Linked DNA regions of Homo sapiens. The protein of the gene in region 1 purifies or fractionates together with the protein of each later gene. This does not show direct contact. Each region holds a gene or a part of one and is shown on either strand. Other genes may lie near its edges.

Region 1 (3,500 bases):
AAGGCCCTCCAGTGAGTCTCAGAAAACCTCCATTCTAGTCCAGGCTTGCAGCTTACTGGAAAGCTGCCTTTTCCTGTTGAGCCTCAGTTTCCAAATCTGTAGATGGGGGTATTGTTCCAGCTTCTCAGGGGAGCTCAACTCTTGAGGGAGCAAATGGGATTAAGGGCATGGCAGTGCTCTTCCAGCTGTGAAGTGCCTTGGGGCGTGGGGTGGGCTCCCACCACCAGCGGGGAATTTCAGGTTCCCGGGCAGCTTTCCCTGCAGCTTAAAACCCCTCCTCCACCTGTGCCAGGATGCTGCCCCCTTGTGGGGATCCCCAGTGTGATGCCCCAACACTCTTCTATCTCCCTGCCCAGGTCACCCTCAGCTACGGTGTCTTTGAGGGGAAACTCAACGTCATTAAGCTACAGGGCCCCTTCTCCCCGGAGGAGGACCCCTCCAGGTGGGTCTGGGGGCTGGAACCTTGGATGGGAGGAGTGGGGGCTGAGTCCAGGCATCCAAACATGGGGGAGCTGGGAGGGAGTGGAGTGGGACAGGCTTTGGTGGCTGACAGCACAGAGCTAGGAGTGGAGGGAGTGGATTTCAGTTTCTGACCCTGCCACTGGCTTGCTGTGTGACCTTGGGCAAGTGTCTTGCCCTCTCTGGGATTCGGTCTCCCATTAGTAACACCTGGAGGCTGGCCATGATGGATCTGAAGAGCTCTCCCAGCCCCAATCCTCTGGGGTTCTTTGGGAGTCCCTGGAAGGCTGAAATGCCTTCCCTGAGCACAGGCAACGCTCTCATGGTGGAACTTCAGGCTCTGGTGGGGGATTTTTATTTTATCTCTTTTGGACTCCTTGTTTCTTTGATACTCTTAAATGCTTCTTTTAGGCAGGTAAAGGGTTGGAATAACACCTTCCAGTTCTGCCCAGAACTGGCCACGGGGAGATGGGCCACCCAAATCCGCTCCTGACTGGTCTAGAGCAGTCTTGGAGCATAGCCTGTGATATGCAGCTTCCTTTCCACACACCAGCACCTGCCAGCTGTGGCTTTTTTTTTTTTTTTTTTTTTTTTTGAGATGGAGCCTCGCTCTGTTGCCCAGGCTGGAGTGCAGTGGTGCGATCTCGACTCACTGCAACCTCCGCCCCCCGGGTTCAAACAATTCTTCTGCCTCAGCCTCCCGAATAGCTGGGATTACAGGCGCCTGCCACCATGCCTGGCTAATTTTTGTGTTTTTAGTGGAGGCGGGGTTTCACCATGTTGGCCAGGCTGGTTTCGAACTCCTGACCTCAAGTGATCCGCCTGCCTTGACCTCCCAAAGTGCTAGGATTACAGGCATGAGCCGCTGCCCCCGGCCCAGCTATGGCTTGTGATTCTGGCCAGGGGTGGCGGGATGGGGGTGGAGAGGAGTTGGGGGAGGGGACACATGGACTCTGGGCCCATCAGTCCAACCCCAGAACTGATGCTTGACCCCTTCCCAGCATCTCTGCCAACTGATGGGCTGGCTTCACCTTGCATGCCTACAGCCATGGGGAGTTCCTCCCTCCTGTGGCAGTCTGTTCCATCTCTGGGCAGCTGGACTAGCCCCAACCCTTCTATTTGCATTTCTGCTCCTTGTAGTGACATGCAATGGGTCTGGGAACTGGGGAAGGAGCCCTGATTCTGCCTTTGGAGACTTAGCAGGGACTCAGGGAGGTAACGAGTAGAGGAGGGCATGAGGTGAACTCTGGGCCCACTTGAGTGACAGAGACTTGTCCAGAGGGAGTCCTGGGGGACGGGGAGTCTGGGACACTGTGTGTGTAGGGGATGAGGGTGAGTATGCCAGTATAGGTTGTTATGGGAGAGTAAGTCAGAGCCCTGATGTTGACTGGGGAGTAGGGGCTGGCCGGGGAAGGCTTCTGTGAGGAGGTAACGTGAAGGACCTGAAGGGCTAGCAGGAGTTCGCTAGGAGAAGAGCAGGTGGCAGATCACTCCCGCAGAGGGGACAGCATATGCAAAGGCCTGATAGCAGGAGACAGGCCTTGACCTGCTCAAGGTAGGAACGGGAGACTGTGTGACTGGAATGTGGAGAAGAGGAGGGAATGGTGTCAAATTTGGTTGGGGACGTGGCAGGGGCCTCTCCAAGGCCTTTGTAGGCTCTGTCTGGACGCTTGTGATGCTTGGAGGAACCAGGGCCCCTGGCCCTGACGTTCTGCAGTGCTGCCTGTCCTGGGGCAGAGGGCTCCCATGATGCTGAGGGCCCTTGCGGCCAAGGCTGCGTTGAACAAGTTGGATATTACAAGGAGATAGAATTTGGCTCGATATAGGAACAAAAATTCAAAATTCCAAGACGAACGAAGCTGCCTTCTAGTAGGATGAGCTCCCCGTCAGCAGTGTGTAAGCCGTAGCTATACTGACAAGAGGTTTAAGAATTGCTGTTAAATTTCCTCAAAGCTTGAAGATTCTAGAAGTCATAGATTACTGCCAAATGGGTCTGGAGCCACCTAGAGATTCAGATGCATGTGATCAGATGATTGGCCTCAGCTGAGGTCTCTTTATGGCTTCTCTGGCTTTTGAAGTTTCTCCAAACTAGCGGTTCTCAAGTGGGGGTGATTTGTCTCTTAGGGGACGTCTGGCAATGTCGGAGACATTTTTGATTCTTATGATTCAGGAAGATGCTACTGGAATCTTGTGGGTAGAGCCCAGGAATGCTGTTAAATATCTCGCAAGGCACAGGACAGCTCCACAACAAAGAATTCTCTGGCCCTAAGTGTTAGTGGTGTTGAGGTAGAGAAACCCTGCTCCAAACCGCCTCTGTGGCATGTGTGCACCTAGGAGAGTGGGCTGAGAGCAGAAGTGGGGGGTGACCATCCTGTCCTTTTCTGGTCTCTCTGCAGATTTCGCTCCCTCCATTGTCTGCTCTATCCAGATACACCCTGGTGTCCCCAGCTGGGTGCCCGATGAATCCTGAACTGCTGGGCAAAGGTTGGGCAGAGACTTCTGGGTGTGCCTTGGCTCCCAAGGTGGCACTGTGGGTCCCTGGCAAGTGTCTTGTGATAGGCAGTCCCTGGCAGGGCCTTCGGGTGGTTGGCAAGCCCAGGATCTGAGTGGCAATTGGCACTGAAGGCACCCCAGGCCCCTGGGAGGTGAGTTAGACAGCCCAGGGGACCAGGTGGACCAGGTGGTGGCCAGAGAGGCTCCAGGGGCTAGACTCCCTCAGGAGGCTGAATTGAAAAAGGGCAGGGGGCACTTGAGCTGGGCTGGGGCTCAGGGGTCCTAACCCTTTAGGCAGTGACATGGCCTCTGGGTGGGGTCTGGCCGTTGGCCCTGGCTAATGTCTCTCAGTCATTCCCCTGGGGCTCAAGCGCTGGGCCGCCCACTCCTGCCTCCCTCATCTGTGTCCCGAGTTCCTGAAGGGACATGGGTGGAATGATGGCAGAATCCAGGGTCTGCAGCACCTGCTGTTGTTGCCAACCAGTCTCCCAAAGCTCCTTGCTCCCCACCCCTTGCGAACAGGACCAGATTTTGTTTGGAGCCTCAGC
Region 2 (3,500 bases), on another chromosome or scaffold:
ACCTCAAATGTCGACTTCCTGAGGTGGTTGCTATTTTGTTCTGTTTTGATTTTAAACAGAAAGCAAGGGCGGACCATGGTTTGATTCCAGATGTGAAGTTAGAAAAAACAGTCCCCCGGCTGCACCGTCCGTCCCTCCAGCATTTCAGGGAGCAGTTTTTGGTTCCAGGGAGGCCCGTGATCCTGAAAGGCGTGGCTGACCACTGGCCGTGCATGCAGAAGTGGAGGTGGGTGGTCGCTGAGGGAGGTGAGGTCCCTTTTCCCATTTTAGCGTTCCCCAGGGCTCCCTGAATTCCTCCCGACCATCCCCAGGGAAATGCAACCTTGTAGATGCTTCACTAGCAGCCCTTGACTGATTGCCAAGGGGTTAAAAAAGAGTGAAAAGTAAGGTGCTCTGAATTTATGCCGCAGGTTATGGGATTCTTACCTTCTACCTTGCTCGCCTTAAGCGGTTTTTTAATGAGTCCCTAAGTGGCAGTCCTAGAATGTTTCTGTTATGCAATTTTACAGGATCCTAGCAATTTCAGACCATCTCAGGGCCCTGAAGCTAAGAGCAGAAATAACCCAAGAGACAGCCCCTCTCTCTCTGAGGGATTCTGTGGTCTCTTGTGTTTGTTTCTAGTCCTTTCTCAGAATCATGATGGGGAGATCAGATCAGGCAGCTGGAGCGTGGCTGTCATGCCGCGGCTCTGCATGAGTTTGGAAATAAGGAGGCATCTCTCCAGGAAGGTAGATGGAGTCCGCCTGTTTTGTGGTTTCGCGGAGGGAATGGTACCCGCTGACACATGTGGAGGAATTCTCATTGCAGGAGCTCTCCTCACAGCAAGGCTTCATTAAGCATTTTACTACGTACCTGGCACTAGGACAGGTGTTGTCATCACCCCCATTCTGTAAATGGGGATCAAGGACTCGGGTTCAGTAACCTGCCTCAGATCCCCTGGCCTGTAACTGATGAGGCCTGGAATCAGTCCCAGGCTAGAGGGCAGAGTCCAGGAGACTGCCACCTGCCACGCTGTCCGCTATTTGTTCAAAGGTTTCTCAGCTTAGTGACAAAATGAGCAAAGAAAGAAGTGAGGAGGCTGTTGGCAAGCAGGGAACTAGAGCAGCCCAGCCAACCAGACTTACCGGCCCTGTCTGCAAAGCTGCACAGCACTGTGTATGAGCCACACAGCCTTGAGCAGGGAGCCCCACCTCTCCATGCCGGTTCCTCATCAGTGAAGCTGGGGATGACAGTCCTTGTCTCTGCACGTGAGGTTTTCCGAGGATGAAAGGGGACCACATGCAAAGCACACTTAGTACTATGCCCAACAGATATTAGCAGTGACGATGCCAATGTGTGTCTTTCTGCTAGTTTGGAGTATATCCAGGAGATCGCTGGCTGCCGAACTGTCCCAGTGGAAGTTGGTTCGAGGTACACAGATGAGGAATGGTCCCAGACCCTCATGACGGTCAACGAGTTCATCAGCAAATACATCGTGAATGAGGTACATCATGGGGACTGCTTTCCCCTAGTACTTGCAAGGCAGAGAGCATAGTACATTTAGGCAAATAACCCCCCATGTGTTGTAATGGGAGGTTTTGGAGGAGCCAGGCTGTAAGTCTGTGGTCGGAGGGACGACCGCAGCGAGGAAGGCAGGCTGCTTAGCCAGCAGACATGAGGGATTCATGTCAGGTCCTTTTTAATGGGCAGGGGAGTATAATTCAGTGGGTTTTAGCCTGTTCCAAAAGTTGGACAGCTAAGTCTAGAGTATGTGTATTTAAATTTTTAATAGCAGCCAGGCATGGTGGCTCACACCTGTAATCCCAGCACTTTGGGAGGCTGAGGCAGGCGGATCACTTGAAACCAGGAGTTCAAGACCAGCCTGGGAAACATAGTGAAACCCTGTCTCTATAAAAAATATAAAAATTAGCTGGGTATAGTGGTACGTGCCTGTAATCCCAGCTACTCAAGAGGCTGAGGTGGGGCAAATTGCTTGAGCCCAGGAGGCAGAGGTTGCAGTGAGCCAAGATCAGGCCACTGCATTCCAGCTTGGACAATAGAACCAGGCCCTGTCAAAATTACGACAGGACAGGATAGGACAATTTATTTTTCCCAAAAGTTAGATCACTTATACTTTCACCAGCAATTAACACAAGTGTCCATTTTCTTACATCTTTGCCTGCACTGTTTGTTGCCATTTTATGAAAATGTTTGCCAATCAGATGGATGAGATCAGTGCTTTACAAACTGGGTACCCCGGTGCTGGAGAGGTTCTTTGAAGCTGCCCCAGGGCCTCTAAGGGTTGGAGAGGACCACTCAGGATGGAGTGGAAGGGTGACGGGTGCTGCAGCTGGGGCCAGCTGGACAGCAGCAGCAGGAGGGCATCTGTCATGACTAACTGGGCTTTCTGTGTTGCCTCTGGTTTTCCCCGGTGGATTAGCCAAGGGACGTCGGGTACCTTGCTCAGCACCAGCTCTTTGACCAGGTAAGTCTGAGGCCACGCACCTCTGCCCCTCACCGTCTCACCTTCCCCTCTCCTCCCCTCCTGGGCTCAGTGCGGCTGGAGCAGTGAGCGTGAGTAGGAGGGAGGCAGCAGGTGAGGCTAGGAAGGTGACAGGACGTGGGTGATGAGGAGCCATTTTCCTAAAGTGACAGGAAACACTGGGGGGTCGCCAGTGCCCCGAGGATTGTAGGGGCTGCTATTCAGAGATGAAGGGAGCAGCTGTCGGAGCGGGTGGCTGGCTGGGCTATTGCTGTGGTGCAAGGAGAGGTGATGCTGGCAGGTGGAGCAGTTCAAGACCGGTGTGAACCACCGAGCCCTGGACGTGGGTGGATGTGTGGGGGAGGGAGGGAAGATCGGGGAAGATGCCCAGATTCAGGACCCCAAAACACTAAATAGATGGAGCTGGGGCGCCCAGGAGGGACCTGGCTGGTGTGGTGTCTGCCAGGAGTGCCCAGGAAGGCAGCCCTTGGCAGGATTCAAGGATAGGGCCAGGTGCGTGTCCCGAACGTGGAAGACTCGAGTCAGTCAGGGTCAGGGCTACAGCCAGGGGTGGGCTGGGGCCGCACCTCTGTAGCCTTTGCAGTGGGGCCCTGGGATGCTGATCAGCTGCTGTATCTACTGCTGAAGCCAGGACTGCTTCTCTGTCTCGATGGGGGACCCAGGGCCAGTAGGGGCTGTGCCAGGAGCCTTCATGCCGACATTAAAGGACGCTGGCGGTTTCTCTTCCCCAGGCCTCCCTATTAGGACCTGTGCATCCTGCGTCCTGTCCATGTCACTTGCTAAGTGAAGGAAAGGGGGATTCTAATTGATCAGGTCCCTACTGTGTGATCCCGAGACCCACCTTTCTCCTGACCCTGGTCATCCTGGGGGCATGGCCTCAGTGTGGGCTGGGGACCCTGGAAGCCATGGTTAACCTTGGCTCCCTGTCCTGGAGCAGCTGTTTCATACTTTGTAGGACAGGAGGAGTTATATTTAGGAGTAGAAGGCCAAGTTCACAGTGACTTTCAAGATGAGCCAG
Region 3 (3,500 bases), on another chromosome or scaffold:
ATGAATCTTGTAGTTGTTCCTGAACTTGGAGTGTTAAATTTTGAATTTGCCATTTTTTAAGGTTCCAGTTTTTTGCTGGGCGTGGTGGCTTACGCCTGTAATCCCAAGACTTTGGGAGACTGAGGCATGCAGATTATCTGAGGTCAGGAATTCGAGACCAGCCTGGCTAACATGGTAAAATCCCATCCCTACAAAAAATACAAAAAATTAGCCGGACATGGTGGTGGGCACCTGTAATCCCAGCTACTCGGGAGGCTGAGGCATGAGAATCGCTGGAACTCAGGAGGTGGGGGTTGCAGTGAGATGAGATAGCACCATTGCACTCCAGCCTGGGAGACAGAGCAAGACTGCGTCTCAAAAAAAAAAAAAAAATCTACTTTTTGTGATACGTATTTTCATATATAAAAGTTTTAATTTCATAAATACTTGGTTTTTATAGTAGCCTTCTTTTGGGTTGAGTGATTTGGGCTCTTAATTTTTATTGCCACAAATAGCCCACAGCTGGTAGTTGCAGACTGTAGGAATTGTACACTGGTATGATCTTACACAGGTAATTGGGCTACTGGAAGTAGAGGACTTGCGAAATACAAAGGAAGAAATGAGAGATGTACCTGCCAGGAGACTCAGTAACCAAAACAAAAACTTCCACTTCATCTAACAAATTATTCCTTTTTGGGATAAAGTTAAAGCTGAAACGTAGGTTTGTTGGTTGTTCTTTATTTTCCTCAAACATAACTTAATTCAGACTTCTCTTAACTTTGGAAAAACCCAACATAGATAAGTTGGATAGATTCTTTTTTCTATTTTGCATCATTAGATTTTTTTTGCTTGAAACAGCTGTCTTTAGCATTAATTCTTAGCATCTTAGATTCTTGCCAGATTATTTTTTACTATTATTTGTCATTTTATTCTTTAATGAAGCAGCCCTTCCTGAAATCATTCACATTTAGATTATATGTTGCTGGAAATACTGAATGTTCTGTGTATTGTGCTTAAGCATGCAATTATAGACAGTAATTAAGTACAGTGCATTTGTTTCAATAGCTTACAGCAATAAGACAGCTTTTGAAAGTTTATACATAAGATGTATACAAAGATAGACTGCCTTCATTTTCTTCAGTACGTGAGTAGGGAAAATAAATTCACAGGAGGAATTGTCAAAGAAGTTCAGAATGAAAGGGAATAAAGGGAAGATGGGGAATGAGAAACAATGAAGAAAATAATAGAAAATTTGGGAAAAGATATAGAAGAAAGAAAGCAGAGAAGGATTAAAACGGCCTTTCCAAAACGACTCTTTGTCAGTGCACTTCCATTAATCACCTCTTCAAATGAGATAGTAATAACTCTTTTTGCATTTTTCATTTTTGCCTCACCCTTACTGGAGAAGAGAAGATGAGAAAGACAGTCCCAGGAGTGTCTGGTATCTGCAGCCACAGGGGGAAAGGAAAGAGAATACAAATTGTCATTGTGTCAGTAGTTCTTATGGCTACCACATTGGGGGCAGCTGTCATTGATTAATTTGAGAACTCCTTCTGCGATCTGTTGTCCATTGTTCAGGATACATATCTTTGGCTGTTATTTTAACATTTATTTATGACACTTGTTTCTACTTACTTTGACATTTGGATACTCACTATTAGCAACATCTTATCTTTTTAATTACTGTTTTGTGGCTTATAAAAAGAGACTATAGGCCGGTGACGATGGCTCACGCCTGTAATCCCAGCACTTTGGGAGGCCTAGGCTGGCGGATCACTTGAGGTCAGGAGTTCAAGACCACCCTAGCCAACGTGGCGAAACCCTGTCTCTACTAAAAATACAAAAATTAGCTGGGCATGGTGGCAGGCACCTGTAATACCAGCTACTTGGGAGGCTGAGGCAGGAGAGTCACTTGAACTCAGGAGGCAGAGGTTGCAGTGAGCCGAGATCGCACCACTGCACTCTAGCCTAGGCAACAGAGTGAGACTCCATCTCAAAAAAAAAAAAAAAAAAGACCGTATAAGAATGAAAGTGAACTGGTACAAAGTAGTTACCATTGTGGAAAAAACAACTCAAATGCCTCATAGTTGAAGCCAAGAAGCAGACAGGCTTTGCCTCTATCAACTTATATTTGAAAAACGTAGTTTCTTTAAATCTCCATTTTTGTCTTTTGAATACTTTATTAGGTCGCTCCAGAGAAAGCTTGAAAGCAAGGCCTGTACTCCACTTGAAAAGATTCATAAAATAGATTTGTAAATTATTATTCAGCGCATGAATTTCTCAAGTATATGATTATACTAAATTAATATTCATATGTTGCAGGAAGTTGGTGAACCATCTAAAGAAGAGAAGGCTGTGGCCAAGTATCTTCGATTCAACTGTCCAACAAAGTCCACCAATATGATGGGTCACCGGGTTGATTATTTTATTGGTAGGATTATATCAGTAAAATCGTATTAGTGTACATATGTTATGAAGTTAACCTACATTTGGGATATGTAGAAGTTTTAAAAGTGCTTTCCAAATGTGATTGTTCTGGTGATGGACATATGGCAGTTGATTATTCTGTTCTTTTCTTTTATGATTGAAAATGTCTATAATAAAAAGATAACATGTTTTCTAATAACAATTGTTGGAAATTTTTTTAAATAGGATTTATTTTCAGTGTTTTAAAATACTACCTTTTGTTTAGATAGTATGCGTACTTGGAACTAAGAGCACTGGCTTTTTTTCCCCAAACAATGTCATTATAAGCTGATGTCATTTATAACACCAGAGCTTATAAGTAGGGGTTGAGTTTGCCTTTCTCATCAATTAAAAGTGAATTGCAGCTGGGTGTCGTGGCTCACACCTATAGTACCAACACTTTGGGAAGCCAAGGCAGGAGGGTTGCTTGAGGCCAGGAGTTCGAGACCAGCCTATGCAACACAATGAGACCCCATCTCTACAAAAAAATTAGATGAGTATGATGGCATGCGCCTCTGAAGTGAGAGGATGGCTTGAGCCCAGGAGTTAGAGGCTGCAGTTAACTATGATCCCACCACTGTACTCCAGCCTGGGTGACAGAGCAAGAACCTGTCTCTTAGAAGAAAAAAAAAACTAAATTGCCAGTGTAGAGGAAAAGTCCTTTATCGTCTCTTTCTTTACTGTTTTTAATGATTTGACATTCATTACAAGTTTTAAAAAGTAGATGTGCTAATCTCTTCAGATATAATATGTTTAGCTGTTTCTTGTGACAGCAGTGGATTGTTGACAGAGCTTCTTCCTCAGTGTATTAGAGTAAAACTTGATGAGAATTTTTATTACTTGCAGGGAGTGGTGAACATTTTGGTTTATCTACATATGCTTGTGATTAATAAGAGTGATAGTTACATACAGATATTTTAAATTTTTGAATATTTCCCCATTAATTTAACTTGCTTTAGTTGGTCTTTCTGAATGCCATTATTTCCCAACATTACTTTTAAAAGATACTTAATATAGTTCACAAGTTGAGGTTTTGGGGAACTACTAATCATGAT
Region 4 (3,500 bases), on another chromosome or scaffold:
TATAAACAAACAAATCATAGAATTAAATTTAAAAAAGAAAAAAATGGCAGCTATGACTGTGGTTTGGTCAAGAATCACCAAAGGGGATTTCCCTAGATGAGGTCTGTTCAAAGCAAGAAGACAGAGAAGAAATAAAACAACCCAAGATTTGGGGAAAATGGTCTACTTTTGACAGGTCTACAGAGTAGATGCAGTGCTATTTAACAATGAGGGAAAAAGAAGAAGGAATTCTTTTTTTCCCTAACAATGCAAATGCTCTTATAAATAAAAAGACTCGAATAGAATGAGGAAGGGAGTCGACTCCTGGGGGAGTGAGGCAGCAGAAGGAGAGCTCTGAGTCGACAGAAGGGGGTTAAGCCTCCGTGGTGAGATGAATCCCATCGCAGGAACTTGCAGATCCTGCAGGAGAGATCGTGGAGTCGTGCCCGGGAAACCTGCGGAGGAGAAAAGCATCAGAGGACTTATTTGTAATTTTACTTCTTGCTTAAAAAGACTTTAAAGACTTTTAATGCTTTGGGTAATTTTCTCTTGCATCTCTAGGTAGATGTGTGGGTTATCGAACCACAGGGACTGAGATTTCTTCATGTTCCCGACACATTTGAAGGCCATTTCGATGGTGTTCCGGTCATTTCTAAAGGACAACAGAAGGTACCCTGAGCCCTGTGTGTTGCCAGGCATTCACAGGGCCTCTGGATTGTGGGTTCTGTTCTCCTTCTGTGCTCTGGAGAAGAGAAAAGCAGGCTGGTGTTGAGGACACTGTTGAAGAAATGGGGATCCCCAAGTAGAGCCTAGGGCCTCCCCAGGATACACAGAACAACACTCCCAGTGCTTTCCTTCCATTTTGACCAGAGATTGTCCCTTTTTGAGTCTCATTTCCCCGTCAGTCACCTGCTTAACCAGTAGCTAAAGGACAGCTTTCACATCCTATATGGCAGATTTTCATTCATTAACCATAGCAAGACATGTTCAGCTCTCTGCCTCAATGACCAGCGATAACCAACTATGACTCCTGTAAGGAGAAACTCCTCTAAGAGCATTAAAACATTTCACAAACTCTTTCCAAAGCACATAGTCAGCCCTTCTACAGGGGATGAAGGAAATTCTTCGGCTTTCTTCTAAAAAGGTCTGAAACCTTGCAAACAGCATGGCAGGCTAGAGATGCTCCCTGCAAAAGCCCTGGCATGTCCTTCCCATCAGTAATGGGTCCACCGATATCGCGGGGATTCAGAACGTCCATTGGGCAGCTCCTCTTCCCTGTGTGCTGGAGAAGGGGCAGCGCCAAGCACTGGGAAGGGGCTAGAGGCAGAGGCTCTGATGTCACCGTTCTTTCTAGGCGCACGTCTCCTTCAAGCCCACGGTAGCACAGCAGAGAATATGCCCTAACTGCCGGGAGACTGCGGTAGATGGGGAACTGGTGGTGCTGTATGACGTGAAAAGAGAAGAGAAGGCTGGTGAACTGGAGGTGAGTGCACACCGGCTCTGGTTCTACTGCCAAGCTCGTGCCAAAGAGCTGCTCCTTTTTGAACAAACTCCCAGGCCTATGGGTGGTTTCTAGCTGCCAGGGCAAGTGTTTCTAGCTGCAGAGAAGGGACTAAAATCATATTCTTTGAATATACCGCTAAGCATTATCTTTTATGTATTAAAAACTAAATGAATAGGGTCTCATGCTCTTGTCCCAGGAGGGCATTCCTGGGCCTCATGTGAAGAACAAAGGAATAATTACAGAACAGGAATTTTAAATAGGCTCCCAAGGCCCTTTGCAATTAGACAATCAAAGAAAGCACAGAGATTACGGGGTGAGGAGGAAGGCGCATCCACAGCCTAGAAAGATCAAGAGCCAGCGGTGAATTTCAAGGCCAAGGTTTATCATGAAGTTTCTTGAAAAGTTTCCTTTCCCCTTCAGTCATGTCCCAGACGTGTGTCTTCCTTTCTTTGTACTAAGGTGAGGACTCTTAGAACGTACGCAAACTCCAAGAGTCTCTCTAGGGACAGCAAGCGGAGCACACACCCTGTACCTGGATGCTGTAGTTTCCTGGAAAGAGGCAGCCAAAGGGCAGAGGAAAGAGAATTAGGTGAGCCAGTCATCAAGCCTGCAGCAGAAGACAAAGAGGATGGTCAGGAGTCCAGCTGGGGCAGCCTCTCATTAACTTCAAGAAAAATCCAAATTTTCTAAAGTGGCCCATACACGTCCTTCGTGATCTGTCTTGCTGATTCTCCAACTAGTTCCCTGAATTCTTGGATTCTACGGCCCCATCTTGCTGAACCACATATGGAGCCCCAAATATGCCATGTTTTCTCATCTCTGGGGCTGCGCTGTCTGGAACTCTCTTCCCCATTCCCCACTATCTCAACCTGGCCCAGCTCTCAAGAGAGCTTCTGAGTCTGAGCTCATCCTTAGGTCCCAGTGGAGATGCTGCTTCCTAGAGAACCGTCCCCTGGGTGCGCGTTAGATGCACACGGGGCTCTTGCCGAGCCCTTTACTTCCTAATCATGGTGTTGAACACACCGCGCTGCACATTGCCTCCACTTACCCTTATCCTCTGCTGGCTGGGAGCCTCCTGACGGGAGGTGCTCTGCCTGATTCACCGCTGGTTAGCAGGGCGCCTGGAACAGGGGCTCTCTGTAAAGACTGAGTGATGTGGAGTGGAGTGGAGTGGAGTGAAGTGGCGTGGAGTGGAGTGGCGTGAAGTCGGGTGGAGTGGAGTGGCGTGCAGTGGAGTGGGGTGAAGTGAAGTGGCATGGAGTGGAGTGGAGCAGCGTGGCGTGGAGTGGAGTAGAGTGGAGTGGCGTGGTGTGGTGTGGAGCGGAGTGCCCTGGCATGGCGTGGAGTGGCGTGGCGTGGAGTGGTGTGACGTGGAGTGGAGTGGCATGGTGTGGAGAGGAGTCAAGTGGAGTGGAGCGGTGTGGAGTGAAGCAGCGTGGAGTGGAGTGGAGCGGAATGTTCTGCTAGGAAGGTCTTGACCCTCAGAGGAGAGGAGGTGGGGGAGCAGGCAGGAAAATGTGGAGGCAAATGCACATCAAGCTCCGCCTCCTCCTCCCTGTAGACCCCTCTCTTCTCTGAGTCCCCAGGTCCCCATCTTCCTACCTTCTAAACACGAATCATGATTTGACTCACAAATACCTTCTATTTTTCAGGTGTTTAATGGATATTTTGTCCACTTCTTTGCTCCTGACAACCTGGACCCAATTCCCAAAAACATCCTCTTTGTCATCGATGTGAGTGGCTCCATGTGGGGAGTTAAAATGAAACAAGTAAGTACCCCCTTGTTTGCAGTGGTTGGGGGGATTCCCTATCTTCTTTGATCCCCTCCTAAAAATGCAATCATTCTATCCCTCCTCCCTGCTTAGGGCTGAAGCTCAGGGACTGTGGTTACAGACTGCCGGTGTCAACTCTTCCTAAAATTTTGCTATTATTGCATTTCACAGGACATACACCTCCGTCTTCTAATCATTCCTCTAGTGTAAAATTCCCTTCCTTCTCTTCTTCCTCTTTCCTGTTT

Evidence for each region.
Region 2: the proteins of MFNG (region 1) and KDM8 purify together in Homo sapiens (affinity purification with mass spectrometry; one large-scale study listed by BioGRID and IntAct). This does not show direct contact.
Region 3: the proteins of MFNG (region 1) and SEC62 purify together in Homo sapiens (affinity purification with mass spectrometry; one large-scale study listed by BioGRID and IntAct). This does not show direct contact.
Region 4: the proteins of MFNG (region 1) and ITIH2 purify together in Homo sapiens (affinity purification with mass spectrometry; one large-scale study listed by BioGRID and IntAct). This does not show direct contact.

The regions. Positions count from the first base shown.
Region 1 is NC_000022.11:37,469,385-37,472,884, reverse strand, and holds part of MFNG (beta-1,3-N-acetylglucosaminyltransferase manic fringe), read left to right. Parts: intron 1-356; coding exon 357-442; intron 443-2,855; coding exon 2,856-2,922; 3' UTR 2,923-3,500. UniProt on the Homo sapiens protein: Glycosyltransferase that initiates the elongation of O-linked fucose residues attached to EGF-like repeats in the extracellular domain of Notch molecules.
Region 2 is NC_000016.10:27,213,526-27,217,025, forward strand, and holds part of KDM8 (bifunctional peptidase and arginyl-hydroxylase JMJD5), read left to right. Parts: intron 1-59; coding exon 60-226; intron 227-1,077; exon of another isoform or gene 1,078-1,247; intron 1,248-1,350; coding exon 1,351-1,483; intron 1,484-2,419; coding exon 2,420-2,464; intron 2,465-3,500. UniProt on the Homo sapiens protein: Bifunctional enzyme that acts both as an endopeptidase and 2-oxoglutarate-dependent monooxygenase.
Region 3 is NC_000003.12:169,973,307-169,976,806, forward strand, and holds part of SEC62 (translocation protein SEC62), read left to right. Parts: intron 1-2,301; coding exon 2,302-2,410; intron 2,411-3,500. UniProt on the Homo sapiens protein: Mediates post-translational transport of precursor polypeptides across endoplasmic reticulum (ER). Proposed to act as a targeting receptor for small presecretory proteins containing short and apolar signal peptides.
Region 4 is NC_000010.11:7,720,316-7,723,815, forward strand, and holds part of ITIH2 (inter-alpha-trypsin inhibitor heavy chain H2 precursor), read left to right. Parts: intron 1-540; coding exon 541-648; intron 649-1,333; coding exon 1,334-1,462; intron 1,463-3,135; coding exon 3,136-3,252; intron 3,253-3,500. UniProt on the Homo sapiens protein: May act as a carrier of hyaluronan in serum or as a binding protein between hyaluronan and other matrix protein, including those on cell surfaces in tissues to regulate the localization, synthesis and degradation of hyaluronan which are essential to cells undergoing biological processes.